4 separate regions of the Homo sapiens genome follow, and all the other regions are reported to be linked to region 2. Evidence: microRNA targets listed by miRTarBase, many of them from high-throughput screens and not tested one by one. Region 2 holds a microRNA gene; each other region holds the end of a gene's coding sequence.

What was found. Region 2 holds the annotated microRNA hsa-miR-556-3p (AUAUUACCAUUAGCUCAUCUUU, at 5,352-5,373, shown strand). A microRNA usually pairs through its seed, bases 2 to 8, with sites in the 3' UTR of a target mRNA and lowers its output. Matches are read on the target gene's strand: a 7mer-m8 pairs with bases 2 to 8, a 7mer-A1 pairs with bases 2 to 7 and ends in A, and an 8mer does both.
Region 1: the mRNA of MRPL35 is a reported target of hsa-miR-556-3p. Seed matches in the 3' UTR shown: 7mer-A1 at 2,932-2,938 and 8mer at 2,035-2,042.
Region 3: miRTarBase lists CLDND1 as a target of hsa-miR-556-3p. Seed matches in the 3' UTR shown: 7mer-m8 at 5,455-5,461.
Region 4: miRTarBase lists DSG2 as a target of hsa-miR-556-3p. Seed matches in the 3' UTR shown: 7mer-A1 at 3,663-3,669.

What each region holds. Positions count from the first base shown.
Region 1 is chr2:86,206,695-86,214,185 of GRCh38, reverse strand. It overlaps MRPL35 (mitochondrial ribosomal protein L35), which reads right to left. Exons shown (of 4, transcript NM_016622.4): 3 at 6,859-7,003; 4 at 396-3,706. The coding sequence ends at 3,518. REEP1 (receptor accessory protein 1) reads left to right here. Exons shown (of 9, transcript NM_001371279.1): 9 at 1-193. Among named protein-coding and RNA genes, the nearest start is that of MRPL35, 11 kb to the right of the region's middle.
Region 2 is chr1:162,337,249-162,345,513 of GRCh38, forward strand. It overlaps MIR556 (microRNA 556), which reads left to right and starts at 5,298; the gene lies at 5,298-5,392. It overlaps NOS1AP (nitric oxide synthase 1 adaptor protein), which reads left to right. Exons shown (of 10, transcript NM_014697.3): 6 at 6,587-6,728. It also overlaps the pseudogene RNA5SP61.
Region 3 is chr3:98,513,261-98,521,172 of GRCh38, reverse strand. CLDND1 (claudin domain containing 1) reads left to right here. Exons shown (of 5, transcript NM_001040181.2): 2 at 1-40; 3 at 2,178-2,288; 4 at 3,984-4,121; 5 at 4,294-5,690. The coding sequence ends at 4,514. Among named protein-coding and RNA genes, the nearest start is that of CLDND1-AS1, 5.4 kb to the left of the region's middle.
Region 4 is chr18:31,543,691-31,551,955 of GRCh38, reverse strand. DSG2 (desmoglein 2) reads right to left here. Exons shown (of 15, transcript NM_001943.5): 15 at 2,948-6,235. The coding sequence ends at 5,213. It overlaps DSG2-AS1 (DSG2 antisense RNA 1), which reads left to right. Exons shown (of 6, transcript NR_045216.1): 3 at 1,597-1,918; 4 at 6,050-6,220. Among named protein-coding and RNA genes, the nearest start is that of DSG2-AS1, 9.1 kb to the left of the region's middle.

The DNA.
Region 1 (7,491 bases), not on the chromosome of region 2:
GGATTTTGACTGTGCACATTTCCTCTAGTTCATGTCTGTAGTCCCTATAGAATGATCTGTAATAAAATAGTATACTGGACTGTGCATCAAAGGGATGTAAAATTACAGTATTCCAAAGGTTGAAGTTCTGCTGTTTTGTTATAATGCCTGATACACATCTTGAATAAAGTCTTAACATTTTTCTTTTAAAAAACATCTTTGTAATGTTGGGCTTAAAAGGAAACAGGAAATACTTTTTTTCAAATATGGGAGGTAGCAAGGATTAGAAGCTGAGTGTTCAGCCACCGACTGGCCTGGTGACTTGGCCCCGTGCCTGTTGCATAGGATGTTGAGAGGGAAAGAAAACCAGATGATATAAATGTTTTGAAAACCAGTTCATCACACAACTACAAACCTGAAAGTATCACTGTTTATTTCACATTTAAAAAAATCATCGGCAGAAACTAGGTAGCTGTGAAAATAGAATAGTCCACTGGTAGAGTTTCAATTGTGCAAACAGACGTTTGGTCCATCATTTTTCTTCTCTGAACATTTCTTCATCTGCAAATGGGGGAGTGCCTGTGCAGGTGACAACAGGGTGGTGAAGGGCCACCCTTAAACCTGCTGCAGCCCTTACCTTTCACATCTGAACAGGCAGACTCAAACTTCATTGGGTGGCCACAAAGACTTGGAAGCTCAAAATTTGAAACATCAAAATTAAACACAGACCCAATTTCTTTGCATTTTTAGTCCTGTATTCTATGTTTGACAAAATCACTGTAAAATAAAGCAGCAGTAAGAAAAGAAGCAGATTCAGAGGACTAAAAGCAGGAACAGATGGGAAAAAAAGGCTGGAAATCCATTCGTTTATTTACTGAGCCTGGTCCAATGTCAACAGAACTAGGATTAACTAGGTTAAGAGTTGGCAAAGGACAGGAAAGCAAAGTAATAAAATTTAAAAGCTGAATTGGTACAGTGTTATGAAGAAGTGTTTATTTAGTATTTATAGTACCAGATTACAGTCACTTGTTGATTTAGATATGAATTTTCATATGTTAGAAGACTCAGGGAAATACACAGGATCCCAAGGAGTGAGACTGAGATTCTGGGTCTTATTAGCTGTACTTTGGGTAATTTACTTAACCCTCTCTCAGCTTCAGTTTCCTCAAATCTAAATTAGGGCTTAACTAATCATTATGTCCTTTGTAAGACTGGAAATGTGGATTAGCAGTTAGACAGTATGTATGTACCCAGTTTTGTAGATATGCTGGGACATAGTAGGTGTTCAATAAATTATACATATACCTGAATAAACAAACTATACATAAATATTTTATAAATTATACATATAATCGAACATCATTTAGGTAAACTCTTTAATGAAAGACATTTATTGTCAGATTATAAAATCAGTGTTGATGATAAGCCCTCCTACCCACAAAACAAAAATCGTATGTATGAAATTCCCTTTCCCGTAAGTTATGTGCCTGTCAGCCATCCCACTTCAGTCCATCTTTGGATGCTGAGGCTCTGGTTGCCAGTCCTTATCTCTACACCTGTCCCTGGTCTAGAGGAGAAACGAAGGTGCTCTGAGGCCCCTGTAACAGAGACCCTTGTCATCCATATTTGCAATAAAGACATCATGGAGGCTGTGCAAAAGTATCCTTCTCCCCAACTTCTGCAGGCACCATTTCCATCTCACTACCCAGAGGTACATCAGAGAGCAGGAGCCAGGCAGGTGACAAAGATGTGGAAGGCTTCTAAGTGGTTGGCTTTGCCGTCTCAGAAGTGCGAAGAAATGAAAATCCATCAAAACAGAATGCCATTCCATGTTTCAGGCTTTTACCTCACCTCAAATCAAATGTCTGTTCTTTATTTATTGGTCCCATAAGTAGACACGCACTTGGACTTCTGGTTTTAGAACATTCTATTGTTATCCTTTCTCCTTTTAATAAACACACACTAGTTTCGAGGAATCTCCCTAATAATCCTGGCCTGACATGCTGCAGAACTTCAATTTCATAATTTTACTAACAACAGAGGAATTTCATCTTATTATTACCAACTACCACATTAAAGGATCTGAAACAGTAATTCATGCATAATTCTATTTAATAATGGTTTTCAAAGTACTTTGCTGTTTGAAAATGCTTCCCAGATGATTCTGATCGGAGAGTTGGGAACCACTGCCCTAGACTGTAACCACTCAATTGAACTTTACTCAGTGCTGCTTCCCTGCCCACTTCAAGTAAACAATGCTTAACTTTTTCGTTTCTAAAACAACTGAGATTACTTTCTCCCCCTTAGTTTCTACAATGATTGTTGAAAATTTGTGGGAAAAGTTTATCCTTACAAATGAAAACATGAAATCTGAAGTGGATAAACTAACTTTTAAGAAATACATATCCTTACTCAGTAAGCTGAGGCAGGAGGACCACTTGAGCCCAGGAGTGCGAGGCTTCAATGAGCTATGATTGCACCACTGCACTCCAGCCTGGGCAACAGAGCAAAACTCCTGTCTCTAGAAAAAATAAATACCTATCTTTCAAAACTTGCATAAAAAGCCCTTGTCTTCACTTGTACAGCCTCTTCTGTTTCATGAATGAGCATGCTGAAGGGCTATTTACTCTCCTATGAAAAAATGTTGTTACAGTAAATGACAAGTGTTATGAACACAATGAACCTGGTGTGTTAGATGTTAAGTGTGCTGCCACCCCATGTGAACCTCCAAGTGAAACTGCTCACATAACTGTTTTTTTGCTGCATGCAAACCTGCTAATACAAAGCGGGCTCCTGACTTAAGGACAGCCAATCCCTACTCTAGACAATGACCCAACCAGACCTAGTATAAAAAGGTAGTCTGGCCCAGTTAAATTCCCTTGGCAATTGGAGACTAGCAGCAGGAGCTGAAGGTCATCATGTAGAAAAGAACCTCAAAGGTGCAAGTTAAAGTTATTACAAAGGAACAGAAACTGTAAGTATGCAAAAGCTGTGTAGAGAAGTTGGTGAATAGAGAGAATGGAGTTAACAATGCAAAAAGAAGCAAGTCACATGCATGCAGAGCCCAAGCCTAAACATCCACCTTCCCCTGCTGAGGAGCACCACCCAATTTCTACTCTTCCTGAGGCTGGGAGGTGATTTCTGAGTGGGAGATGGGGTTGGTGAGGTGGTTCCTGAATTCCCTGGCACATATCCTTGAAATAATGTCACATTGCTTGAGCTAACTTGTAGCTTTTGAGTCTTTTTATGTTTGTCCCACTTGAGATTCCTTGCAACTAAAAGAGCATAACTGAAACAACTAGTTAAGCCAATACCATTTGTTAAAAATAATGCACCATTCTAAATTTCTGTTTCCCTAACCAAATCTGGCAAAGTCTGATCCATTAAGTTTTAAAACTTTTCTAAGTTTAATGTTGTCACTGTATGTTTACGTATTCATTGGTACAATTTACATCAAGTTTTGTACTTATCCATTTTTGCAAAGATATGTACACAAAGATACATATCCAATAACTGAGAAACAAGTGAAACTTCTGATCTATACTTTCAGGTTTGTTCGATCATGATACTTCTGATAAGGATCATCAACGTACCAGTTTCGCCTCTTCCAGAAGGACGTCGTCATTTTATCTAAGAGTTTACTCTGGGTTTTATTGCAGAATACAAATTCCCTCAATCGCTTCTTCCTTGCAGGTGTCTTTTTCCATAATTTTTTCTTATAGCCAGCCTGTCAGATATTACAAAGAAATGTAAAACATCATACTATGTATGAAACAACAGGTATCTTCACAACTCAAGGTTTATAGACCCAATAAGAACAAAAACCAGACTTCCATAGGGGCTGGACTATTTCTTGGAAAGATGTGATTCTCAATGGCCGGGGGAAGGGAGGGTGGCGGGGAGGGGGATGGAGAAAGCATGTGTAGTTTAAAAAAGAATTAGTAATAAATCATATTTTAGAAAAAAATTATTTAAATTAAACTCACAGAAAATAAAACTAAATGTGTGTGGCTGGGAAAGTACAAGATAATGACAGAATTATAATCACTAACTTAACAGGTATGATCTTACTATCTCTTCAGCAATCTTTAACAACATACTATTATTCTATTTTACATCTTTAAAAAAAGAAACCATTGATTAGAGAAGTAGCAGACAGAGGTCTGAGGGCTAATAAGAGTTCTTTTTTTGTTTCATTTTGAGACAGGGTCTCACTCTGTCACCCAGGCTGGAGTGCAGTGGCATGATCACGGTCACTGCAGCCTCTACCTCCTGGGCTCAAGTGATCCTCCTGCCTCAGCCTCTCGTATAGCTGGGACCACAAGTGTGCACCACCATACCCAGCTACTTTTTAAATTTTTGTAGAGATAAGGTCTCACCATCTTGCCCAGGCTAATAAGAGTTCTTAACCACTGTCTTTCCTAATGTAGAGGAGGATGGAGTGCAGGCGAGGTAACAACATTAATATTTATTAAGGAGGCTGAGTATTACAAGAGCTGAGAAGCACAGTTCTCAAATATATTGCTTCATTTATTATTTTCACACACAAGGGACCAATTTTTATAGGAAGTACTTTTCTAAGGAATTATGAATATGGTAAGACTATTATTAGGAGTGGTGAAGGAATGGTTAACCCACATATTTAACCCAGAACTTTCATATACACCCATACAGGTATTATTCATTTTGAAGAATTTATTTTTAAAGACAGGAAAGGAAAATTTGATTGATTATAAAAACTATAATCATAGCCTGTTTAAACTAGAAGGGATCTTAGGTGCCATCCAGCTTAATTAACATCTGGCTAAAACCACACGGTGAGCCCTTGGGTCCTTTCAAGCCAAGGGCTCTTTATGGCACAATACCAACTGAACAAAACCATGGCTCTTTGCCGAGAATGTGCCTTGCATTTCTGACATGTCTTAGTATCATCACTGTGACCATCAACTTCTATAAGGACAGTGATGAAATAAGGAAAGGTTATTTAAGAGTTCTGGTTTTAGAATGCTAGAGGTTAGATTTTTGCTACTCACTGCTTACAATTTTAAATGCAAACATTTAAAGCCAAATCTCCACATTTGTGTAATAATTTCATAGTTTGCAGGCCAAACTGGGTTACTATGGATCTCTGACGTACAAACACCTAATTTATTGCCCTGCTCATTACCACCAGTATCCTTTAAAGATTATTCACAGAATGGAACCACTATGAAAATGCTTGAAATTTTTTAGACAATCTCTAGATTCAAAAATGGAAGGAGGGAATGAACAATAAATACCAAGGACTGCTGGATGAAACCGTGTCATGGAAAATACTTTGTTTTACACATTAGTTTGAATTCATCTACCCAGATTTTTTTTTTCTCTGAAAATTAGATTTTGAAGAGGCAGGGCATTCTATACAGGGTATACTTTCGGGAGCCCTGAACTGAAGCTAGGTATTATGACTGGAGAGTATGATCGGGTCCTTTACAGTAACATGAGGGCCCCAGAGCCCAGTAAGAGGGACATGGAAAGGAAGGCAAGGAAACCCACCCATTTCATTTTACCTAGGGCTAGAAGAGGACCTGGAAATAACTGGTATAAAAACCAAAGGGTGGGGCTAGGCGTCACGGCCCATGCCTGTAATCCCAGCACTTTGGGAGGCCGAGACAGGTGGATCACTTAAGGTCAGGAGTTCAAGACCAGCCTGGCCAACATGGTGAAAACCCGTCTCTACTAAAAATACAAAAATTAGCCTGGCATGGTGGTGCATGCCTGTAATCCCAGCTACTCGGAAGGCTGAGGCAGGAGAATGGCCTGAACCCGTGAGGCAGAGGTCACAGTGAGCCAAGATTGTGCCACTGCACTCTAGCCTGGGCGATAGAGTGACACTTTGTCTCAAAAAAAGAAAAAAAAAAAAACACATACACACAAAAGGGAAGAAATGTTTCCAGTGGTCTCAAATTCACAAAACTCAGAACATTAGACCTTTAGTTTAGCTGCTTTATGGATTATATGAGCTTCTGCTGACTGGTGTAGGAAACTACCCACCACAGTGTTTCAATAGAGAAATGAGCTGAGAGTTCCAACCAACCCATTTATCTACTAATTTAGTACTGTTTATAAAACGGGAGAATCCTTTCAACCTTTCAAACATCAAGAAAGTTCTACCAACTATTTTATTTTTACAGGGAACCAAATTTTGATTTTTAAAGATTTAATTTCCAAGTAATGAAAGGGAATTAGGATTTGGGCAGTTACTAAATCTCAAAAATGGTTTTGCAAAACTGGTCTTAAGCTGCTTTCTTTTCATTTTTTGAGATGAAGTCTTGCTGTGTCACCTAGGCTGGAGTGCAGTGGCGTGATCTTGGCTCACTGCAGCCTCTGCCTTCCAGGTTCAAGCGACTCTCCTGCCTCAGCTTCCCAAGCAGCTGGGATTATAGGCACCTGCCACAACGCCTGACCTCAAGTGTTCTGCCCGCCTTGGCCTCCCAAAGTGCTGGGATTACAGGCATGAGCTACAGTGCCTGGCTGAATTCTGAATTCTGTTTGATTTTAATCTGCTCACACTCCTTTTTTCTTTTCTTTTTTGAGACGGAGTCTCGCTCTGTCGCCCAGGCTGGAGTGCAGTGGTTCGATCTTGGCTCACTACAACCTCCACCTCCCGGGTTCAAGCAATTATGTGCCTCAGCCTCCCGAGTAGCTGGAATTACAGGTGCCTGCCACCACGCCTAATTTTTGTATTTTTAGTAGAGATGGAGTTTCACCATGTTGGCCAAGCTGGTCTTGAACTCCTGACCTTATGATCCACCCGCCAAAGTGCTGGGATTATAGGCGTGAGCCACCACGCCCGGCCTCACATTCCTTTTTCAATTTAGTAACAGTGTGAAGACTCACCTTTCTCCTCACCCAAAGGCCACAATGAAGTCGAAGAAACCTATCGATGACAGCTTTCACGGTCTTTCTCTTGCCTTTTCTTGCACTGAAGTATGTTAGAGATCTGACTGGCAGCTTCAGGACACTTGGAAGCACGGGGGCCATTCTAAAAATATATTTTAAAATTTTTAGCTTGTAATCAGACTGATTAAAGGATTAAAATTCATTATCTATACTGAGAAATGAGTAAAGCTGCTCCAATGGACTGGAACTAACTTTTCATATACAATATTACTTCCAATGACCCATGACATTAAGCATAAATTAGAATAGCAACCATCACCAACTCGCAATCTTCTAAAACCTACCCCCTCAATCCCTGTAAAATAATTCATTCTATTATCATCGCTTTATTTCTTATCCATCTTCCCACCAGATTGCAAACTCCTTGAGGACTTCAATTTGTTTACCCTTATGTCCTTTTTGCCAAGTACAGTGCTAGGCACCCAGGGGTATTTAACTGAGTATTTGCTGACTGAATGACCAACACATGCAGCCCATCCTTATAAGCTGAGCGTCTTGTGCACCCTCCACTTTGGATGACAGCCTCCATGCAGGAAAGCACACATACAACATCAGAAGCATGCTGTGTTT
Region 2 (8,265 bases):
AATAATTTTGCCTGCAATCACAGCTCGATTGGTTTGGGTTAGGAGAAATAATTTCCTCCTATAATGCTGTCACTATCAAATTGGGGGCCACAGCTGTGAAGTTGAACTGTCCTTTAGAGGTTGCAATGGATTTTGAATGATGATGACAGCCATGTGCTAAAGAATAAGTCACTTGCCTGGTCAAACTTACGAGATGAAAGATAGGAAAGTTCTAAAGTTAGGGAAAGAGTCTGTTTTTTATACTTTAGGTTGAGTTGGGAAGTCAAAATGCAGGAATCATGGGTCTCAGAACTCATCTAGTCTGAATCACTCTCTTTGTGGATGAGAAAATCAATACTGAGAAAGGAGAATTAACTGTCCACAGTCACCCAGTTGGTTCTGACAGCACTGGGATTGTAACTCAGACTTCTTTTCTCTGGGGTACTAAGTTTCATGGACTAGCAGAGTAGAAGGAAAAACACAGCTATCTGTTGGAAACTTTAAGATGCAGTATGTCCTGTCAATGTAGAAAATCACACCTGCTTTGAAACTAAACTTTCCTTATACTGAGCAATATTCTGATGTCCAAGGCATCACCTCAACCAAATTATATAATCAAAGCCACAAAATAATGTGTTGGACAAAAACCTAACCCATCTACCATTTCAGAGCCTTAGTACTGTAGATCCTACTGTATGTAGAAGTCCAAATATAAATGTATTTTCATGCTTTGGCATTGTAAATTCCATAGATTAAGATCATTTGATAGATATAAGCTGAATCTTTTACTAAGATTCCCCCCAACCCAAAAAAATACATTAAAGAAACATGACATTCAGTTCTGTTTTTGTTGAGATTCTGTGGCAGTTAAGGTCAAGACAAGGACATTATCTTGTATTGCTGTGATAGATAAGAATTATAAATCTGTGAGCTGTCCCACAGCTGACCTCATGGACTTCAGTTCTCTAAAATTCAGAACCACTTGTCAGTCAAATTTGAGTACCCAAAAGAGATGGGGGAGAGGGGGAGTGGAGGAGGGGACAGGGGAATAGTAAACTAGAGAGCTGGTAGACCATTAAAGAACCTTACTTGAAAGATGTGTGCCCCCATTATTCTCTTTTCTCCTCTTATTATTGTCATTGTCATCATCATCTTCATCTGGTATTTTGTACTTATACTCTCTACTTGCTTATCTGGTGACTCTTAATCCTCTTTGTAAGTTGTAAAGTAAAGAGAGAGCTTCTTCCAGGACAGTGAAATTCAGAACAGTGCCCAAAATTATTTATCAAATCAGCTATAGAATATGACTAATAAGAACCATTCTTTACATGCATATGGCACTTAAAGATTCCCAAATTTTATAGGACCAACCAACTACAAAGTCGTTAAGAAAGAGAATAGAAAATAAAATCATGGTCTATGGCCATACCACCTTGAATGTGTCTGATCTCATTAGCTAAGCAGGGTGGGGTCTGGTGTGTACTTTGATGGGAGAAAATAAAATCATGATTGACTATAATTTTTCTATGGGCCAGTGAGGTACAGGAATCAACCTTTTGATTTATGTCTTCCTAAAGCTACCACTGTCGGCTTTTGTTTGCTTTCGGGTGTACAACCCACAGTGATTGTGAATATAGTGTTATTTTCATGACCATTGCCGCAGTTCATCAAATGTTGACTCCTGCTAGGTATGAAGTTGATACCCACATTAGGTGTGCTGAGGAGAACAGCTGTTCATTGCATTTGGACTTAACTTTGGTTCTGGCTTGAGGGATGTCCTAGGGTTGTGGGAGAAGGAGCTGTGTCAGCGTGAAAAGATGGGTGGTTTGAAGAAACATTGCTGTGTGTATAAGGTAAGTGTATACAGTTTTAAGCTCCCTTTCCAGCTGTATTTTCACAAAATTGCCTGTAGTTGACACTCCCATGAGCAGGCTCTCCATCTGGAGCTAAGAGCCACTCTGAGGTTAGAGATCCCTTTCCAGCTTTGAAAATATCAAAGCAACCATATCCAGCCTAATCTTGACAATGAAGAGCCCACAAATGCTTTTGGGCTGCTAATAGAAAATGGCTTTTGGACGAGAAGATTTGATCCGTGTGGCAAAGCACTTTTATGGGCTTATGTAAAACTAAACTGGATTTGTACAGAAATAATGCAGTATAATGATGCTTTTTTTAAAAAAAAAAAAAATCTAGTAAATTCCAGAGAATGGCCAGATTTTGGAACTCAAAAAGGCTGCTTTCTCAAGGTTCCACTTGTTTACCCTTTGTACCTCACTGCCTTCAATCTTTAAACCTCTGCTTTAGTCTCCAAAGGCCTGTATGTCGTCATGAGGTGGGAGCAACTGCTTCACTGTGATCTAGAAGACCCACAGACAAGCATTCATAAAAACTTCTGGAAGGGACTTTTTAAAGCTGCTATTTACCAGAGTTCTCCCTCTTGGGTGCAGACATGGCTAATTAATGATAAAATCCCAGCGTGTGTGATTCTTGCATTTTGGGGTTGAAGGCAGAACCAGTTTTCTTGCCCTGCAGGCCAGAAGGTGGGGTAACTAAGTGGGGTAGGCCTAGCAGGCAGGAGCCAGCATGGCTGTGCAGAAAGCAGATGGTGAAGACACAGCCCCTCCCAGGCACAGGCTGCCTCTACTGACCACCTTTAAGTAATCACCTCCCTAACGAGGTCCCCATATAGAATCCTCTAAAAGTAGACTTTTTAATGGTGAAGCAAGGAGAGCCTAAAAGGTCAAGGGACATCAGAACTCACATAGCCATTTATGAGTACAGTGAGGAGCTGTTTAGCCCCTTCTGACTCCCTGAGTGGTAGATAGGAAGGGCAATTCTTTTATGTGTATGTATGTAGTCATTCTGTGAAACAGTTAGAGTAGCTTGATTATGTGTTCCAGTGCAGAGGGCTCTTTATGAAACATGCTACAGTGTCCTTTTACTGTGAATAGAAATATAACCTTCACATTAAAGGAGTAAAATAAAGGATAAATTAAACCATTTAATTTATTAATTTAATTATTAAACTGTTTACCACTCAGTATGCAGATCTAGAACTCTTAATGCAACAATTTCCTCACATGTAGAAACTATCATACTAGCTCAGACCAAAGATCCATTTGGCTCAGGAATTTTCCTGTGCTGCTATGGTGGAGGCTATGCTATCTGATGCACAGCCTTTTGGATGTTAGCATACATAAGTAAGAGGTGATTCCCTTAGTCGCTTTATGTTTCTACTATGATAAAAATTGTTCCACCTTTCCTGCACTGCTTTTTCTTTTCTGTCTTAATTGCCTCTTGGTGCAGTGAATTCCATAGTCAGGATAAAACATTTCTTGAGCATTTACTATATGCCAGGCACTGTGGTAGGTGCTATCATATATTCAGTTTTTCAGTGCAGTTACAGAAATACCGTAGAGAACAACGGGTGGAGGGAGGATAGGAAGGAAATGGGAGGCTGAAGGATGGGATGCCCTTTCCAGCATGGGGAAGGCAGAACCAGTAAACCTAAAGTCTGCATTTCCTACTTTTTCAGGGGAATCAGGTAGAGGTTAGGGTCAGCTGCTGATCCTAGTAAAAAATACTAGTAAAATGTGAAAATGAAGTGTTATCAATATTAACCATTAAAACCAGCCTACTTCCTTACAGCCACTTTGGGCTTATAGATGGTTGAATATGTGAGTATGTTGCACATGTTTGTCCTTGATAAAGGTGGCAGAATAGAGATTTGAGCTGGAGTCTATATTCTTAAGATGCTCAGTTCTGAGCATAGCCCATCATCCATTGTCATCTTGTGATGCCTGAGAAATACAGGTCCTCTGTGAAGTCATTCTCCCACCACCTTTATCCTCTTATTTAAATCTGAGGGATTCCTTCCAAAGATAAATTTAGAAATTCGATTCCTACCCCTGTCTAATCCCATAGATCAGGGACATTTGTTTGAGGATCTTTAAATTTTTAATATCATCTTAAAAGCTGGTTAAAGGAAGTATCTGTGATTTACAGAGATGATGGAATTTGTAACACGTCCTCCTTAGGAAAACCTGAGATGTTATAGGAACAAACTCAGTAGTGAATTTAGAATTTTCTATATAACTGTATTTTAAAGGGGGAACTGTATTTTAATCTGTACCCTGGGAATGAAACCGACGGGAAAAGACTAACTCAGTCTTTGCAGATATTTATTCAGTATGAGATATCTGGGTTAATTCATGTAAGAGAAGAAAGTAATGGAATTAAACACTTAATCTCTACATATCATTTGGACTTACCATATTTTATTGTTACAACCTAAAACATTTACCTTTTTTACCTTTTGTAAAGATACCTGGGGGAGCAAAATTCCCAAGAGTCAGAGAAGAAAGTAGAGGAAGGTTTCTGTATAGTGGACACTGGTAGGACAGTGGTAGGCAGAATAAAGTCATACCTAAGGTTTAGTAAACTAGTAACGAGCTTTGCCGTAGACGATTAACCATAGGCAGTCTGCTCTTACTCTCATAAAAGGAATAGGAACCAAAAAATCTCAAGGCCTAGGGGAATAACAGTTTCGGATGTAGGAGCCTTTACTTCTCCCTTTTCACCTGAGAGTTAAGCTTCCTGGCACAGCCTCCTAAGCACAGCACAGCTTGGTGGCTAAAGGAAATGTAGAAAGCTGGAGTGTTCCTAGCCCACATTTGTTAGGGACTGTGTCTTCTAAATCACGCCTTTTTGTGTGTTTTGGGAGTGGGAAGTGTAGGGGCTTCTTGCTTAGGACTGATGCCTACTGCTTCTCAACTTCCTGTGCAGATAGAACAGTCATGTCTTACACACTGCAAGCCTATGGTATGAGAAGGGGCCTAAGCCTGCCCTGTGGACACAGGAGGAAATTAAGGGTAGATGTAGAAAACAGAGGTTCTGATTCGCCACTGGGTGATGGTGGACCCCACAGAAGTTACCCATCTCCTCCTGCTTCGCTTAAGGTTCTTATCTCCCAGAAGTGTCAGGATATTTCAGGTGAGAGACCAATGGAGAATATCTCTGGAGTTAGTCTAATGGCTAAGAAAGGTTAGAGCTGTAAAACAATTACTTCTAGGAGTAGATTTGAACTGAAGAATATAGGGAGCAGTAGAGTTGACTGAGATCTCAAATTGACATGTAGATGATAATTAGTCAAGATGCCTTTCACATTAATATGGATGCTCTGGCCTGAAATAAGCAGAAGGAACATAGAAATGACTCCAGGCTTGAGGAGAAGCAATTCTAGAAGTTATACCCAGCAGAGAATGGACTACAGCAGTTGTTCCATGCACAGGGTTCCAAGGTCCCTAGGAGTTCACAAAGATAGTAATAAGAAAGATGAGCTCATTGTAATATGAGCTTCATTTATACATTTCATATTACCATTAGCTCATCTTTTTTATTACTACCTTCAACAAGGCCTTCTAGACTTATCAAAACACTGGATATCAGTTAGGTAATGTAATACCAGCTACCTCATGCTGATGAAAAGCCCTACTTGATTGCTGCCATTACCTGGGGTGGGTGGGAGGTGGATGTGATTGATGGACTATATGGTGTCAACAGGTGGCCATGGCTGACCTGAAGTCAGATCATCCAAAACACGATGAATGTTAGACTTGAGTATAGGGTGACAATCACAATTAGATTAAATTGTAGCCCATGGTGGTGGGATGCTTGAGGCCCACTGAGGTAAGAGAAGCAGTGTGCTGAGCCCTTCCCAGCCTGAGCTCTGAAACTCTAAATAAACCACATCACTCATTTCTGTCCTTGAAAGAAAGCAAAAGCTGACATCTTCAAACCATAATCAGTTATCCACCTTTGAGGCCATGCCCTGGAACCCCTGCATGTGGCTCTTCCTCACAGCCTGCATGGGTGGCCTAAGACTCTACATAGGAGCAGGCTTCTTTGTCCTCTCTCTCTTCTCCTAGTTAAATGGTGGAATACTGGGAACTAGGGTCAAGTTCTCTTCTTGGGCTCTTAAAGCAAGAGATTAAATACCAAAACAAAAGAAAGGAAGGAGCCACAGAATAGACCCAAGAACGTGAGGTCTTTGGAGTAAGTCTGGGAAAGTGTCACCTTAGATTTAGTTGGCTGCCAACTAGTGGTGTTCCAGAGGAGCTGGGTGCTGAGCTTCCATTGGTTTCTGCTGTTTAGGCCATGGCTTCCAAGCCTCATGTTACCACTGCCCTTGGTCTGCAGGAGCTCCAGGGAAACTCAACATTTGCAGCAGCATTCAAAAAAGAAAAAAATGATAGCCGAGTTCCTCTTAGTTTGATGGACCCATTGAACATTTTATCATGGCTGGCAAAAGATTCTGAAGCATATTGACTACTTCTGTTACACATGGGAGGGAAGAATTGGGGCTAAGTCCATAACTGGCATATTTGCTATCTGTCCTTTCAGTTGACTGATTGTTTCAGCACTGTGGTGACAGTTTCTGTTTTCTGGAGTATTTCAGAAAGGGGAAATGTCTTTGCACTCATTTGTATGTGCATATCTGAACAACTTTAGATTTTTCTGTCTCTTTCTTTGGCTGCTTCATGAGTTTCTATCCACATGCCCCTTGCGCATCCTCACCCATCCTGTTCTTCTCCTTTCTCCTTCCCAGAGCCAAGCTATGAGAATCGTTCGGACGGTGGGGCAGGCCTTTGAGGTCTGCCACAAGCTGAGCCTGCAGCACACGCAGCAGAATGCAGATGGCCAGGAAGATGGAGAGAGCGAGAGGAACAGCAACAGCTCAGGAGACCCAGGTAGGCACTGCGGCTTCTGTGGATGTGGGTGGGAAGGCAGTGCACACAGTAGGCTCTGGTGGATCACTGCCCTGACCCCCAGGCTGTGAACTCATTTTAAGAAACATTTTATTTTTTCCGTTTCTCTCTAAATTCTAGATTCTCTTTAAGGAACACGTATTACTTTTATAACAGAAATTAAAGATGTTTAAATTATTAAATGAGGAAGTATTTAAACTGGATATCAGGGAGAGGTAGAGCTGCTATACTACCAAATCTGACTTCAAAGAAGTTTTCAGTAAAAAAGCACCCCCATAAAACAAATTAGAAAGAACATAAATTTATAATTACCTAGTTTGTTTTATTAAATTTCTAACTTCTGTAGTTCTATAAGCCCTCAATATGGATAGTATTTTAATATCCCCAACTTTCAAGCCTCATTAAAAGTCAGGAAGGAGGCCGGGCGCAGTGTCTCAAGTCTGTTAATCCTAGCACTTTGGGAGGCTGAGATGAGCAGATCACTTGAGCCCAGGAGTTCAAGACTAGCCTGGCCAACATGGCAAATCCCTGCCATGTTGCCTGTATTTTCTACTAAAAATACAAAAATTAGCCAGGCGTGGTGGTACACGCCTATAGTCCCAGCTACTTGGAAGGCTGAGGCAGGAGAATTGCTTCAACTCAGGAGGCGGAAGTTGCAGTGAGCCAAGATTGTGCCACCGCACTCCAGCTTGGGCTACAGAGCTAGGCTGCCTCAAAAAAAAAAAAGTCAGGAAGGAGACAATAAATGTGAAAAAATGAAGTATGGGCAAGAAAAAGAGCAGATAAAAAAAATATTGTTTATGTTAATTTTTAACATGGGAAACCCAAGAAAATAAACTGAGAACTATTAGAAATAATAAGAGAATTCAGCTAGAAAGTCAAAGTTCAATAACACATACAGCTATATTTGTGATTTTCATATATTCCAAGAACAGCTGGTTAGAAGTCATAGTGGAGGAAAAAAATCCATTAAAATAACAATTAAAAAAAAAGATACTTATGAATAATCACAATAAAAATGTGTTTGTTACCTACGAAAAAATCTTAAACAAATGGAAAGGCATGCCATATTCTTGGATGGGAAAGCTCAACATCATAAAAATGTTAATTCTCTCTTTGTTTATCTATAAATTTAACATGACAATACAGATTTCTTTTCTTTTTTTCTTTTATTATTATACTTTAAGTTTTAGGGTACATGTGCACATTGTGCAGGTTAGTTACATATGTATACATGTGCCGTGCTGGTGCGCTGCACCCACTAACTCATCATCTAGCATTAGGTATATCTCCCAAAGCTATCCCTCCCCCCTCCCCCCACCCCACAACAGTCCCCAGAGTGTGATGTTCCCCTTCCTGTGTCCATGTGATCTCATTGTTCAATTCCCACCTATGAGTGAGAATATGCGGTGTTTGGTTTTTTGTTCTTGCGATAGTTTACTGAGAATGATGATTTCTAACAGCAAAAGAGGTACCACAGTAAGCTACAGTATTCAAAACTCATGGGATATAGCTAAAG
Region 3 (7,912 bases), not on the chromosome of region 2:
CCCAAAAACATGCATTGGTATAGCCCACCAGAAAGGACAGGTATTTCTCTTATTTTAACTTCTGTCTTCTTCACCTGGTTAATAATAGACAAAACGACGTAATGATTGCCCAATTACATGTAAGCAGGTTTGTTGGTTCTCTCTCTCCTTAAAGAAATAAATCGTGTATCTTCTCTTTCTACTGCCTTCTCTCCCCAACTTCTTTGCATTACCATGGTACTCATCAATATTGGTTGGATGAGGAACTTTTCTTATCTTGGGAAAGCCTTAATGGCTTTTTTTTTTCTTATTTACTCACTCATTAAAATACTTTTCATTACTCTAACACATGTTATAAAGAAATAGTTGGAAAAGTACATCGAAAGACTTTTAAAAATATTTGGTAACTAGTAAAAGGACTACCATCGAAAATCAACTCAAAAAATTGTCCTTTTATGGGTTAGCTGTATTATAATACATATCTATCATTTGCCCCTGTGTCTTAGAGGATATAATTTGACCAGCTCTACATTTAATCTGTGTAATTATGAGACTGTTTTACAACAATCTTGATGCAGAGTTGGTAGGTTAAGAAATTTGTATTACAGAAGTTAAAAAAAAAAAACCAAAAACTAGATTTTTAGGTTTATTTTACAGGCATTCTTATTTAACACTTAAAGATTTTGATTTCCAGTTATTAAAATGGTAGCTTTAGAACTCTTTGTAAGGAACAACTTTACAGTTTATTTATGACTACTTCTGTTGGCCCCTTAGTGGGGAAGCATTGTATTCAAATCATAGCAGAACAGGCTTGAGTTATGATATATCAAAAGGATGATAATATGTCACTGTATCTGGAAAAAAAGATAATTTGGAAGGAAAGGAGAGAAAGTTGGTTAAAATTCATTGTAAAATGTTCAGTTTGACTTATGAGGTTACAGGAGCACTTGATATTGAAATTGGAGTTGGAATTGGAGTGTTACCATTTAGTCATTCATTAAACAAATAATTTATTGCATGTCTCCATGTTCCAGGGCCTCTTAGCTGGGAGAACATCAGGAAAGAACAAAATCCTTACTCCTGGGGAGCTAGCATTCTAATAAAGGATGACAGGCAGTGAACAGAATATAACAGTATAAACAGAATAAATAATTATTCAGTATGTTAAAAGATGACATGTGCTATGGCAAAATAGAACACAAAAGGGATTTGGAAATATGTGGGAAAAGGAATATTGGTGGCCATAGGTTATGATTTTCAATAGGATACTTAAAGTAGGTCTCATTGAGAAGACACCACTTGAGTAAAGAATGTAGTTAAAGACTAGACAAAAGAGTTGGCCATATGGGTAAATGGGGAGGAAGTCATTTAGGTTGGAAAGGACATCTACTGCAAAGGCTCTATGGCGGGAGCATGCCTGAAATATTCAAGGACCAGTAAGGAAGCCACTGGGCTGGAATGGAGGGAGAGACGGGAAGTTGGGTATGCTGTTAAAGACCTACTTTGGGAGTGGGACTGGGGCAAATCCTGGAGGACTCTAGGCAGAATGAGAACTTTGGTGTTGACTCCAGATACAGTGCTGAGCCCTGATCTGGTCACCCTGGCTGTTGTGAGAACAGAGGCAGCAGACAAAGGTGGAAACTAGAAGACTATGGTTAGGAGGTTATAGAAGTAATTCAGGTTAAGTGATGATTATGACTCACACCAGAATGGTAGCACTGAGCAGCAGCTGGATTCTGGACATAGTTTGAAGGAAGAATTCCTGGGATTTCCTGATGGAGTGTAAATGTACAAGAATTACTCTAAAGTTTCTGGTCTGAGGAACTGGAAGTGTGGATTTGGCATTCCCTGAGATGGGAATATGGTTGATAAAGCACGGTTGCATGAGAAGATCAACATTCCTATTTATTTCAGTCTTTGTTCCCTCCCCTTCTTCCTAGGCTTTCTACATAGCTATTCTGCCATTCATTTTACTGCTTCCACTTTATTTTTCTTCCTTGTGCCTATGTCTTCAGCCTGCCACTGAGAACCAGTGGCATCCATTGGACATCTATGAAACCTGTGTGTCAGTCAGGGCCAGAGAAGTTGCTGACCCCTCTGGAAACATCCTTTACTGTTTTACTTCAGAGAATAATTACTGAAAGAGATTTTTGTTAAATGTTTATAATTAAAACAACAGGCAATTGTTCTTGTTCCAGAGTCATTTGATGTGGTCACAAAATGTGTGAGTTTCACACTAACTGAGCAGTTCATGGAGAAATTTGTTGATCCCGGAAACCACAATAGCGGGATTGATCTCCTTAGGACCTGTGAGTACTTTGATTTCACCAGGACAGTTGGGGGAACAAAGATAATTTTATTTGTCTCTTTTTGGACTATGTTTTTGGAATAAGATGAGTTAGTAGATTGTGCCAACGTGAAATAAAATCTCTAACAGTATCCAGTGAACTCTATTCTGTTGATATTTTAGAAGGTAGATACATGCTTACCAAATTTCAAATGATTTGAAGTTGACAGGGCCAACTACTTCATTGGATGATGGGATCTAGACCTTCAAAAGATGTTATTAATGGGCCCATTTAGTAAAAGGAAATTTAGTTGAGATAACTTATACATTCCTATATTTGAATTAAACACTTTCCACTGCTTGAGTTCAGGTAAGTATATGTGAAAAAAGTTTACTGCAAGCTCTAAATGAGTCAGTGAGTTGTCAGGCCTGTCAAAAGTGTTTATCCAGTCTTAGGTGATAGTAACAAAAGGGTAGATGTCAAAAAAGATGAAAGTATTTATTAGGAACAACCTATTCCCTGATGGTCAGGCAGCCCATGAAATACTGTCTTCAGATTTGAGCCTCAGTTTTCAGGGCTATAGGGACTTGCCCAGAAGAATGACCATGTTGTAAGAGAAAAGGTTGAATAAGAGGTAGGTATTCAGTTTTATAAAGAGAATGTGTAGCAAGCAGTTTATTACTAGGAGAGTTTGAAAGAAAGTAAGTTAGAAAAACACATAAGAAGTTCCAGAAAGCAAAACCAGCACCAAAAGGTGTAAAGTTTAGTCAAGATTGATATGAATGCATTTCTAATAATGAATATTATTGGAAAATGGAATGGCATGTTTTGTGAGGTCATCAGGTTTTCTTCCCATGTTGATGAGAGATTTATGATAATTAAAACTACCTTTAGATTCTCTGCTTTGTGCTTTATATATATTCTTCAACAGCCCTATAAGACAGGTCATTTATAATTACCATTAATTTACTTGTTGTTACTGCCTTTAGATCATATAAAGACCTAGATATTGTTGGTAGGTAGAGTCAGACTGATTTTTGTATCAAATCCTGGCTCTACCACTTACTGTGTTATTTTTACAAGTTATTTATGACTCTTGCCTCAGTTTCCTTAATTACAAAATGGAATTAATAATAATACAGCTGTAGCTATGGGGGATTGGATTCAGGACCCCCTGCTAATTCCAAGGTTGCTAAAGTACCTTATATAAAATGGCATAATATTAGCATATAACCTACACAATCCTCCTGTATACTTTAAATCATCTTTAGATTGCTTATAATACCCAATACAATATAAATGCTATGTAAATAGTTGTTATACTATATATTTGTAAATTTGTATCATTTTTTTTTCTGAATATTTTTAACCCTTGGTTAGTTGAATCTGCGGATGTGAAACCTGCAGATATGGAGGGCTGACTGTACCTACTTTCTAGGGTTGTTGGGAGGATTAATACAGAAAATGTGTAGACAAACATAGCATGGAACATAGTGAACCCTCAGTAATTGCTACTACCTGTTAGTGTCCTTTTACTTTTATCAGGACAAGAGTAGCATCCTTTTGAATAATGTGCTTTAGAAAAGAGGCCTCAATGTTAAAATACTTTCACACTTTTTGAGAAAAGATCTAATTAGAATATGAAAGAAATTGCCATTGCGGGGAAAATGGTCTGAAATCACGGTAACATTTCTTTTCTCTCTTTTTAAAAATCAGATCTTTGGCGTTGCCAGTTCCTTTTACCTTTTGTGAGTTTAGGTTTGATGTGCTTTGGGGCTTTGATCGGACTTTGTGCTTGCATTTGCCGAAGCTTATATCCCACCATTGCCACGGGCATTCTCCATCTCCTTGCAGGTAGGTTTTGTCATCATACTTACCTTTTAGCTTCTTCCTGTCTCTTTAGGGACCAAAGAGTTATAAATCTGAAATGTTCACGTATTAACTGCCCTGTCACATTGCCTGAAAAGCTCTTTACTGTGCTTTTATCCAGCCATGTTTTGTTTTGTTTTCTAAATTTTCCCCCAAGGTCTGTGTACACTGGGCTCAGTAAGTTGTTATGTTGCTGGAATTGAACTACTCCACCAGAAACTAGAGCTCCCTGACAATGTATCCGGTGAATTTGGATGGTCCTTCTGCCTGGCTTGTGTCTCTGCTCCCTTACAGTTCATGGCTTCTGCTCTCTTCATCTGGGCTGCTCACACCAACCGGAAAGAGTACACCTTAATGAAGGCATATCGTGTGGCATGAGCAAGAAACTGCCTGCTTTACAATTGCCATTTTTATTTTTTTAAAATAATACTGATATTTTCCCCACCTCTCAATTGTTTTTAATTTTTATTTGTGGATATACCATTTTATTATGAAAATCTATTTTATTTATACACATTCACCACTAAATACACACTTAATACCACTAAAATTTATGTGGTTTACTTTAAGCGATGCCATCTTTCAAATAAACTAATCTAGGTCTAGACAGAAAGAAATGGATAGAGACTTGACACAAATTTATGAAAGAAAATTGGGAGTAGGAATGTGACCGAAAACAAGTTGTGCTAATGTCTGTTAGACTTTTCAGTAAAACTAAAGTAACTGTATCTGTTCAACTAAAAACTCTATATTAGTTTCTTTGGGAAACCTCTCATCGTCAAAACTTTATGTTCACTTTGCTGTTGTAGATAGCCAGTCAACCAGCAGTATTAGTGCTGTTTTCAAAGATTTAAGCTCTATAAAATTGGGAAATTATCTAAGATCATTTTCCCTAAGCATTGACACATAGCTTCATCTGAGGTGAGATATGGCAGCTGTTTGTATCTGCACTGTGTCTGTCTACAAAAAGTGAAAAATACAGTGTTTACTTGAAATTTTAACTTTGTAACTGCAAGAATTCCAGTTCAGCCGGGCGAGGATTAGTATTATTTTTAACTCTCCGTAAGATTTTCAGTACCACCAAATTGTTTTGGATTTTTTTTCTTTCCTCTTCACATACCAGGGTTATTAAAAGTGTGCTTTCTTTTTACATTATATTACAGTTACAAGGTAAAATTCCTCAACTGCTATTTATTTATTCCAGCCCAGTACTATAAAGAACGTTTCACCATAATGACCCTCCAGAGCTGGGAAACCTACCACAAGATCTAAAGTTCTGGCTGTCCATTAACCTCCAACTATGGTCTTTATTTCTTGTGGTAATATGATGTGCCTTTCCTTGCCTAAATCCCTTCCTGGTGTGTATCAACATTATTTAATGTCTTCTAATTCAGTCATTTTTTTATAAGTATGTCTATAAACATTGAACTTTAAAAAACTTATTTATTTATTCCACTACTGTAGCAATTGACAGATTAAAAAAATGTAACTTCATAATTTCTTACCATAACCTCAATGTCTTTTTTAAAAAATAAAATTAAAAATGAAAAGAGACTCAATTGTATATAGAGTGTCTGAATTGATTTAAATCTCAACACTTTAGGATAAAGAAGTGGAGGCAATCTCTGTGGTTGTCTGTGCAAAGTGCATCTTGCTGTACAGGGCTGTCGTTACATCCTGTGTTTGGGTCTCTTGTTTGATCTTCTGGGAAATGTAGGAACCCCTTCCCCCTATTAGAAATAAGAAAATCTTTATCTTTTATTTTTCAGAATTTTAAACCATGTTCTCAAAAGTAGTTTTGTTATCTCTACATGTCATACTTAATGTGGCTAGTTTTCAGTAAAGTCATTTAGTGGCTGTGGATGTTTGTGTTCTATAGTAAATAACCAAGTCAGCTTCTGACTTAGAACAAAGTCAGCATTACTCTGTAGCCAATTATTGCCTGTGAAATGACTGGTTACTCAGGTTTCTATCTAATCTTAATTCTTGAAGATTCATTACCCTTCAGCGCCTTCTGTGGAAGGTGGAAAAGAGAAAAGCTAAATGAACAAACAAAACACCTTTGGGAATGGGATAAGAAAATTTTTGGCAGCATGACATTTTTGTATTGGTCAGTTATTTTAAACAATGTCCCTGCCTCTTAATACCCCAGAGTTACATGGGAAGCTACTAGCACCATAACCCCTGGTGCTGCATTGTAGTTGGTATTTTTAGCATGTTGCAGGGTAGCTGAGGTTATCTTTCCTGCAAAGACTTTTTTTCTTTGGAATATATAGGGCTGTATTGTTCATTTAAATGTGAAACTGATTCTAATCAGGTTGAACCATATGAAACTGCAGATATTCAGCCATTTTTGATCAACCTAATAGATAAAATCAGTGGCAAGGCGAACCCTATTTAATCTTTGAAAGCAACCCCCAAAGTAAAAAATTAATTTTCAGATTTTTCAGAATGAATTTTTTTTTCTTTTGGGGTGGAGTTTCACTCTTGTTGCCCAGGCTGAGTGCAATGGTGCGATCTTGGCTCATCACAACCTTTGCCTCCTGGGTTCAAGCGATTCTCCTACCTCAGCCTCCCGAGTAGCTGGGATTACAGTCATGCACCACCATGCCCAGCTAATTTTGTATTTTTAGTAGAGATGGGGTTTCCCCATGTCGGCCAGGCTGGCCTTGAACTCTCGACCTCAGGCGATCCGCCCGCCTCGGCCTCTCAAAGTGCTGGGATTACAGGCATGGGCCACCATACCCGGCCTCAGAATGAATTTTGTGGCAGTTTAACAAATGTGTTTTAAGACTTTGATTTTATAGCTCCTAACTAAATGATGTGGGTAAATATCCTCTATGATTTTTAGCAAAAGACTCATTTCAAAATTTATTAAGTATAGCCATAAAACACAATTTGGCACAACAACAACAACAACAAAAAAGGAATTCTAGAATTTATTCAGATAACAGTGTGCCTTCTGTCTGCATCATATTACACTAGGATTTCAAATTTATAATCTAATGGGAATGTGTTAAAATTTTACCTGCTGTAGTTGTGTGTGTGCACATGCACACGTGCGTTAAGGGAGAGGATAGGGTTGACAATCACTCCTAGGTGAACTCATTTAGTCATATGATTTGAGAAGAATGAGATGACCACAAACCATATCAATTTAGTTTGTTTTTCCATTCCAGAAACATCACCAAATTGCAGACTAGCACAGTTAAAACCTATAGACCCTGTCATGTTCAATTGACTATAACATATATAGATCGGGCCATTTTAATACTTAGCCTTCATATAAACTTTCACCAAAAATGAAAACCTGTTAACCTAATTTTGCTGATTGAAAAACTTTCTTTTTTGTGAAATGGAGTCTCACTCCGTCACCCAGGTTGGAGTGCAGTGGCCCAATCTTGGCTCACTGCAACCTCCGCCTCCTGGGTTCAAGGGATTCTCCTGCCTCAGCCTACGGAGTAGCTGGGATTACAGGTGTGTGCCACCATGCCCAGCAACTTTTGTATTTTTAGTAGAGATGGGGTTTCACCATGTTGGCTAGGCTGGTCTCAAACTCCTGACCTCAAGTGACTCACCCACCTTGGCCTCCCAAAGTGCTGGGATGACAGGCGTGAGCCACTGCACACGGCCTGATTGCAAAACTTTCTGAAATTCTCTAGCAGCTAAAAGAGCAGTTAATGGGTGCAGCTCTGAAGATGCAAATTGTTATTTCACAAGCTTGATGCAGCTGTGTCCTGGCACAGATGGGTGGAGGCTTTTGTCCTCCTTTCAGC
Region 4 (8,265 bases), not on the chromosome of region 2:
GGAAGCTTAAACTTATCCATATAAATAATTGTTGTAAAACCTTCTGATAAAAGTCAGAAATTGTCAAAATGGGAAAAGCCAAGACCTACCTGTATATTGTTTACAATAAATGTACTATAAAGGCACAGACAGGTGTCAAGCAAAAGGATCAAAAAGATATACCACGGAAGCACTAACCATAAGAAGGCTGGTATGGCTGTATTAATGTTAGGCAAGGTAGATTTCAAGACAAAGAATGTGTTAGAAGAAAAACTTCAGGCAAATTAAATTTTACAAAGTTGGCTGGGTGTGGTGGCTCACGCCTGTAATCCCAGCAGTTTAGGAGGCTGAGGCTGGTGGATCACTTGAGGCCAGGAGTTCGAGACCAGCCTGGGCAACATGGGGAAACCCCATCTCTACTAAAAAAAAAAAAAAAAAAAAAAATGCAAAAATTAGCCTGGTGTGGTGGCGTACACCTGTAATCCCAGCCCAGCTACTCAGGAGGCTGAGGAGAATCACTTGACCCTGGGAGGCGGAGGTTGCAGTGAGCGGAGATTCTGCCACTGCGCTCCAGCCTGGGTGACAGAGTGAGACTCCATCTCCAAAATAATAAAATAAATAAATATATAAACAAATTTTACAAACTTTAATTGAGCAAAGAATAATTTGCAAATTGGGCAGTACCTAAACCGGAGTAGATTCAGAGCCACGCTGGTGCTGCCACGTGGTCAGAGAGGATTTATGGATAGAAAAAGGAAGTGAGGTACAGAATAGCAGGACTGGTTACAGCTCAGGGTTTGCCTTATTTGAATGCAGTTTGAACAGTTGGCTGCCTGTGAGTGGTTGAAGTATTGCGGCCGTGATTGCCTCAGACAAGAGTAGGTTACAGTCTGTTTACACATCCAGTTAGGTTATAGTTCACTAAGTATGGAGAAACCTTCAGGCCAAACTTAAAATATGTAACAAGGGCCAGGTGTGGTAATTCACGCCTGTAATCCCAGCACTTTGGGAGGCCAAGGCAGGCGGATCACCCGAGGTCGGGAGTTTGAGACCTGCCTGACCAATATGGAGAAACCCCGTCTCTATTAAAAATACAAAATTAGCTGGGCGTGGTGGCGCATGCCTGTAACCCCAGCTACTTGGGAGGGTGAGGCAGGAGAATCATTTGAACCTGGGAGGCGGAGGTTGTGGTGAGCCGAGTTTGCGCCATTTCACTCACTTGAAACTCCGTCTCAAAAAAAAAAAAAAAAAAAAAGGAAAAGAATGTAAGGAGGCAGCTTTAGGCTAAAGGTAATTAGCAGTTATAAACAGAGATGAAGAGAGGCATTTCATAATGATAAAAAGATCAGTTCTTCAGGAACACAGTAATCCTAAATGTACTTGTACCTAATAACACAGGCAAAAAGTTTCAAAACACAGGAAACAAAAATAGAAAGAATTAAAGGGGGAAATAAGCAAAGCCACACTTGGGAGACTTCAACCTCTTAGTAATTAATGGAAACAGTAGACAAAGTAATTGGGAATGATATAGAGGATTAAAATAAAACATAATGAAACTAATAAATTTTGGTCCTTTAAGAAAGTCAGATTTAATGATCTGAAATGTCTCATTTTTAGGTGATATTTGGTTAGCAACGTCCTACTGTAGACATTTTGATGTGGTGGTGATTGGAATATGGTCTGCAGAGATCAACCAGAATTAGCTCCATGTGCCACTGGGAGTGGGAACTGAAGTCACGCAGGAATAAACCAGTCTTCATGCTTTAGGATGTTCTGATGTGCCATTGTCGTGAAATCTTCATTCATGAGACATTCCAGTTTACCGGCAGTGTCGACTAGAATATGCTACAGCCCCCAAAATACGTTTTTAGTATAAGGATTATTTTGAGCTGATTATTTTGAGAAATAGCAGACGCAGGAGAAACTCTGAAGACAGAACGTAAGTTTACCTTTTGTAAAGGGATTTACATTTATAAGGGAAATGTCCATTTGTAAGGCTGTCTCCCTCCGTACCGGAAACACGGGATGACTATAAGTGACAAAGAGATTAATTTAAATCTGCATGACAAATCTTACTCAAGCTTACCAGACTTTTCCTGGTCACCTTCCCATAACTTGTTTCCCCTGCCCAGAAGCCCCTAATCCCCTTTCCTATGTTTTAGCCCAAGTTGGTATATTATTAAATTAAACTGGGCCTGAGGCTGCCTCCATACCTTGAGTCCCCACATGACGAACTGCAGCCTAGCTTGGTACATAAATGAACTGAAAGCCTAATTTAGGAGTATATTTTTGTAATACATAGCTGAGCGTCAATCAATCACAGCAGCTGAGTTTCAGCCAGTCACTGGCTGCCAACTGATCAGCCCACCTCCAAATAAGGCAAAGGCTCAGCTGTAACCAATCAAGCAGCTTCCCTACCTCACTTCCATTTTCTGTCTATGAATACGGCCTGCTCATTATTGTAGAATAGAGTTCTCCGAACCTTTTCTAGTTCCAGGGCAGCCCAATTTTGTGAACCTTTCTTTGCTTAAGTAAACTGTTAGATTTAATTTGTTTAAAGCTCTTCTTTTAACATTTTACACCCAAGTTCTAACCACCCCTTTGAGCTGCTCATTCCAGTTACTCCAAAGCATGCATGAGATACACATGTTAACAGACTAATGTTTGTTTTTCTCTTGTTAATCTGTGTTTTGTTACAGAGCCCCAGCTGGGGACCTAGAAGAAAATTTGTTTTTCTTCTCTTATAGCAGCAACTCTGATCTTTTCCCTTCTAAACTATAACAAGCAATTAAAACAGCCTCTCAAACATTGGTAGAATGATTTCATCTCTTTGGGTTAGATATACTAGCCTTCTTCTGCCAGACCCAACAGATTTCTCCAGTGTTACTCTGGGCAGAGAGCAACCTTCACTTCCTTAGGAACAAGGTTGCCAGAGTTGGACAATGAAAATGCCAAGTACCCCGATAAATTTGAATTTTAGATAACCGACAACTTTTTTTATTGCAAGCAGATCTAATTAAATAACAAAGTCCAAGAAACACCTGCCTTTAAGGCACTCTCCCTAACAAACTGAGTTATATTCCTTGTAAAATATAATAGAGAAATAAAAATCTATGGGGAAAGGGTCACTCTAAAGATACTTTTTATTTAAATATTTTATGATGATACATATACAAATATAATCTTCCAAAAAACAAATGTAAAACTAATACAAATCACTTTTTCAGGAACAAAGAAAATCATTTAGAAAATGTGATTATGCTAAAAGAGGCAGGTTAGGTTTCCAAGGCTGCTCAAGGTGGAAGCTTAAGACCAACTTTTGTTTGAGTACACAAGTGATATTTACATTTTCATATACTAGTGATATACCTGTTGCATACTTGGCAAAATAAAACTGATAGTAAGTCTATAATAATAAAAGAAACAACAATTACTAAGTAAACAATTCTAGATGATGGAAGAGTAACCTCCATTTAAGCTACAGACTTAGATGTCTAAAAATATGTGTCCTGATCTGTACAGTTAGTGGGAGCACACTATATAAATCCTTTGCATGACACCATTCAACAATATTTTTTAAAATCTACAAAATTTTAAAGTTTCACTTCCCTAGCAAAATATCTTCAGTCAAGAAATTAGTCTTTGAAAATTATGAAAATTGTTGTGGGAAATATTTATACAAATTATTACTGATAATGCACATATATTTTGAAACATTGTTTCTAGAAGCAATAAAATATAACCTATTTAGGAGATAACCCAAATGATTTGTAAAAAAATTAACTTGTAGAAAAGGGAAGGATGTTGTGTAAAATCAAGTCAATTATTTGAGGTTTTTATAATATTGAGTACTTATGTACTAAGTCACACCCAGCCAGTCAATAACTGAGAAATCAAAATAAAATAATAATTTCAAAGAATTACATAAATACAGGGCCTTTTGAGATTTTTGGCAATTGTAAACAAAAACGAATGGTTTTTACAATTCAGTGTAATTCTACGAATATTTATTTGGCACCCATGTTAGGCACTGAGGCTACACAGCAGTGAAATAGGCCTAGTTGTTCTCAACTAGAGAACATAGTTGGTTAATGTAGCTGCACTGAATTGTAGCTGTTTAGAAGATAATATACCCTGAGGCTTTTTAAAGTATACTATTACTATAAGAAGTAAAATTATTTTATACTTATAAATTTTGTTTTGGATTATTCAACTGAATTTGGAGTGTTCAGAATTTTCATGGCGGTTGAGACAAGGAAGAGGTATAATGCTATTTTTTTTTCCTTTTCTTTTTTTTTTTGAGACGGAATCTCACTCTGTTGCCCAGACTGGAGTGCAATGGTGCGATCTCGGCTCACTGCAACCTCCGCCTCCCGGGTTCAAGTGATTCTCCTGCCTCAGCCTCCCAAGTAGCTGGGATTACAGGCGCCCACCATCACGCCCAGCTAATTTTTGTATTTTTAGTAGAGACGGGGTTTCACCAGGTTGGCCTGGCTGATCTCAAACTCCTGACCACAGTTGATCCACCCGCCTCGGCCTCCCAAAGTGCTGGGATTACAGGCGTTAGCCACCACCCCTGGCCAGTATAATGCTATTTTTAAGACTATACAGTATGTACGTGCACACACACACACTGTCATGTGCACAGAAACATACAATGTGTATTCTTATCATCAATGGTCCAATTTAATGAATCACACAGATTGAAAGGGTTCAAGTCTTAAAGAAGTTATGAGCACCATAGCTGGTGCTCAGACTGTGCATGTATCTTTGGATCAATGAGTTGTTGAAAGTCTGCTGGGTGCAGTAAAGTACAGAATACAGAACATCAATGTTTAATGTTAATACGGTAGGCAAAGAGACCCAGTCAGTTTCCTGGGTTGCTTTACTGGACGGCTGATGAACTAGGTACTCTGTTCACTTGGTAAATTCTCAGAAGCCAGATTGACTCTCTATGTATCTTGTTTTATCAGGATTGTTTGCATAGCTTGCTAAAAGGCACCTAAGCAGCAGCATCATCTCTATGTCTTCAGTAAATTGTGGAACATTTCTAAAATACTCCTGGAAGCAGAGACAGTGTGGTCCTTTGCATATCAGTGACTGAGAAAAATTTTAAGATCAATGTGTATGTGTCTCTGTGTGTCTGTAAGGCTCATGAAAAATCAGGTACATTGGAAACATGAAATTAGTCACTGCTAATTAAACTCTGGGTCAGTTTGTGGCTGACTGCTGTTTAGGAGTAAGAATGCTGTACAGTGCTATGCTTGGTAACTCTGGTGGAAGATGTGGTTATGGTAGAATTAGAATGACCAGATTCCTCTAAACCAAAATCTGGCAGAGGGCCAGGGACTCCAGCTCCAGACACCGTGGTGTTCCTAGCCGTCATAGAATTTTCAGTGGGAATCTGGTAACTGGATTGCAGAGTGGAAGCAGGTGCTAGAACTCTTTCTGTCACTGTCACATTCTGTCCTACTGCTATATTAGGCATGGCCAGAGTAGGCTGCACACCTGAGCTGGGGGCAAGGAAGCTCTCTCTTTCCCTCACCATGACGTAAGGTACATCTTGAAGATGCTGAGTGCCTTCCAGAGGATTCGATCCACCCCCATGAGGCTGTATTACTCTTTCAGTGACCACAACTGTACCTTCATTAGCATAAGGCTGATCTACCAAGGTAGAAGCTGGAGCATACACCCTCTCTGTCACAATAAGGCTCTGTGGCTGGCTAGGACCCAGGATCACAGTGGTTGGTGGCATAGTGGACCCTGTGACATAGGAAGTTTCTGTTGCTATCACATTTCTAGAAGCCATTGGGTCAGGAAGAGGTGTAGCTACCTTTTGCGCCTGCCTAGAAGACACAGATCTTTCAGTGACTATTTCCTGAGTTACTTTCTCTGCATTGGCTTCTTGCAAAGATTTTGGAACTGGGAAGCTACTGCCAGAGGAGTAGGTATTCTCTGAATTAACCATAGTTTGCTCACAGAGTGAATGTGAAGCTGTGTTCATACTTGTTTCTGTGGCAGGTTTTTGTCTCTGCTCAATTTCCTTATTTATATCTATTTTTTGACCCAGGCAAACTTCAGCTAGTGTCTTGAATTTAAGTCCCAAATCATCTAAGAAGCGGTCATCTAGCTCTCCTTCAATAAAACTGCAACAACCAATAGAAGCATTCAGCGATTCAGTTTCTTCCTGAGAATAAACCAGAAGGCAATCTTTGGCTGTGTGATTTTCATCTTCCTCAGTGTAAGAGGCCGCTTTCTAAAATGAAAACAAAACAAAACAAACACAAAACAGACAAATAATTAGCAATATAAATTCATTTTAAAACAAGACTCTATATTCCTGTTCAAAATGCAGTAATGTGAATTTAATTACAAGGAACCATCAGGGAAACACAAATTGAGAGAGATCCTACGACACAACTGGACTGTATTCTTAAAAAAAATTAATATCAGGGAAAAAATAGAAAGGCAGAGGGGACTGTTTCAGATTAAAGGAGACTAAAGTGTCAGGACAACTAAATGGAATGCAGGATCCTGAGAAAAACAAAATTGCTGTAAAAGATAGTGTGATAGTTGGCTAAACTGAAATATGGACTATGTCAATATTAAAGTTCTACATTTGTTAACTGTACTATAGTAATGTAAGAGAATGTGTGTGAATGTGTGTCAGTGAGAGAGAGACAGAGAAAATGGAAAAGCAAATAGCAAATGTGGCAAAATGTTTATTGGGTTCAAAATTTCTATTATTCTTGCAAATTTTCTGATAACTTTGAAATTACTTCCAAATCAAAAGTTAGTACACACATACATAACCAAGAATGACTGGAGCAGGATTAGAGTGGAGAGAGGGAAAACTTACCAAAAGAAAACAAACAGGACGCTAGAATTGAGCTTAGCAGTGAGACAGGAAAGGCCAAGAAATGGTTTTGCTTGACACCACCCACATCCCTGTTAAGCTAATACTTGAAGGTGGGTGAAGGATGGTATGAAAGATGGGAGGTTAAAAAGGAGCAGAAAGTGGGAAAGCACGCTAATAATTTGCAAATTTAGAAGAGGGGGACAGAAGTAACTTGCTTTCCTCAATGGAAGCCCCTCCCCTTACTCCTCTCTAGGGCCCTTCAGATGCCTTATATTCCAACTCTGTCCATTCTCATGGGAGCACAGGGCCTTGTTCTCAAGAAAACCACCCAGTCCTACTTTTTAAAAAATTATTCTTACTATGTCTGTAAGATCTGTAGTAAAGTTCTTTATTTTATTTCTAACATCCATAGTTTGTGCTTAATCTCTTAATATCCTAATTAGTCTGGTAAAATGTTTATCAATTTTATTGACCTCTTTAAATAATAAGCTTGTGGCTTCAATTTTTTTTCTTATTACTTTTTGCTAAATATTTCATTGATTTCTGCTCTAAAATTCATCATTATCTTATTTCTGCTTGTTTTGGGTTTAATTTGCTCTTCTAACTTCTGAGGGTGGAAGCTTAGGTCACTGATTTGAGAACCATCTTCTAATATAGCCATTTTTGCTACAATTTCCCTTCAAGCATCACTTTAGTAGTACCCCACAAATTTTCATGAAGTATAATTTAATTTGCAGTCATGTGTATTTATAAATATTTGAGTATATTTTATATATCTCTTTGTTACTGATCTCTGGTTTTAATTTTTTTTTCATCAAAGTACATTGTATGACTGCAGTTCTTTAAAAGTTATTTACATTTATTTAATGTTCTAGAATACAGTCTATATGAAAAAGCATGTGTATTCTGCTTCTGTTGCATAGAGTGTTCTGTCAGTATCAACTAGATCCATTTGGTTCACAGTACTAAGTTTTCTATATGCTTACTGATTCTGTCACTTGTTCTTTCATTTACTGATAGATCAGGTTGAACTCTCCAACTATCATTATGAATTTGTCTGTTTCTCTTTCAGTTGTTTTTGCTTTAAGTTTTAAAAATTTCTGTTATTAGGTTCTGACATATTTAGGAGTTTCAGGCCTCCTGATGAACTGACTCATTTTTCATTATGAACTATCCCTCATTATTCCTGGTAATATTCCTTGTTCTGAAGTATACTTTATCTCTATGTTATACTTTTTTTTTTTTTTTTTTTTAGACAGAGTTTCACTCTGTTGCCCAGGCTGGAGTGCAGTGGTATGATCACAGCTCACTGCATCCTTGGCTTTCCAGGCTCAAGTGATCCCCCTACCTCAGCCTTCTGAGTAGCTGGGACTACAGGTGTGTGCCAGCATGCCCAGCTAATTTTTTGTATTTTTGGAGAGATAGGG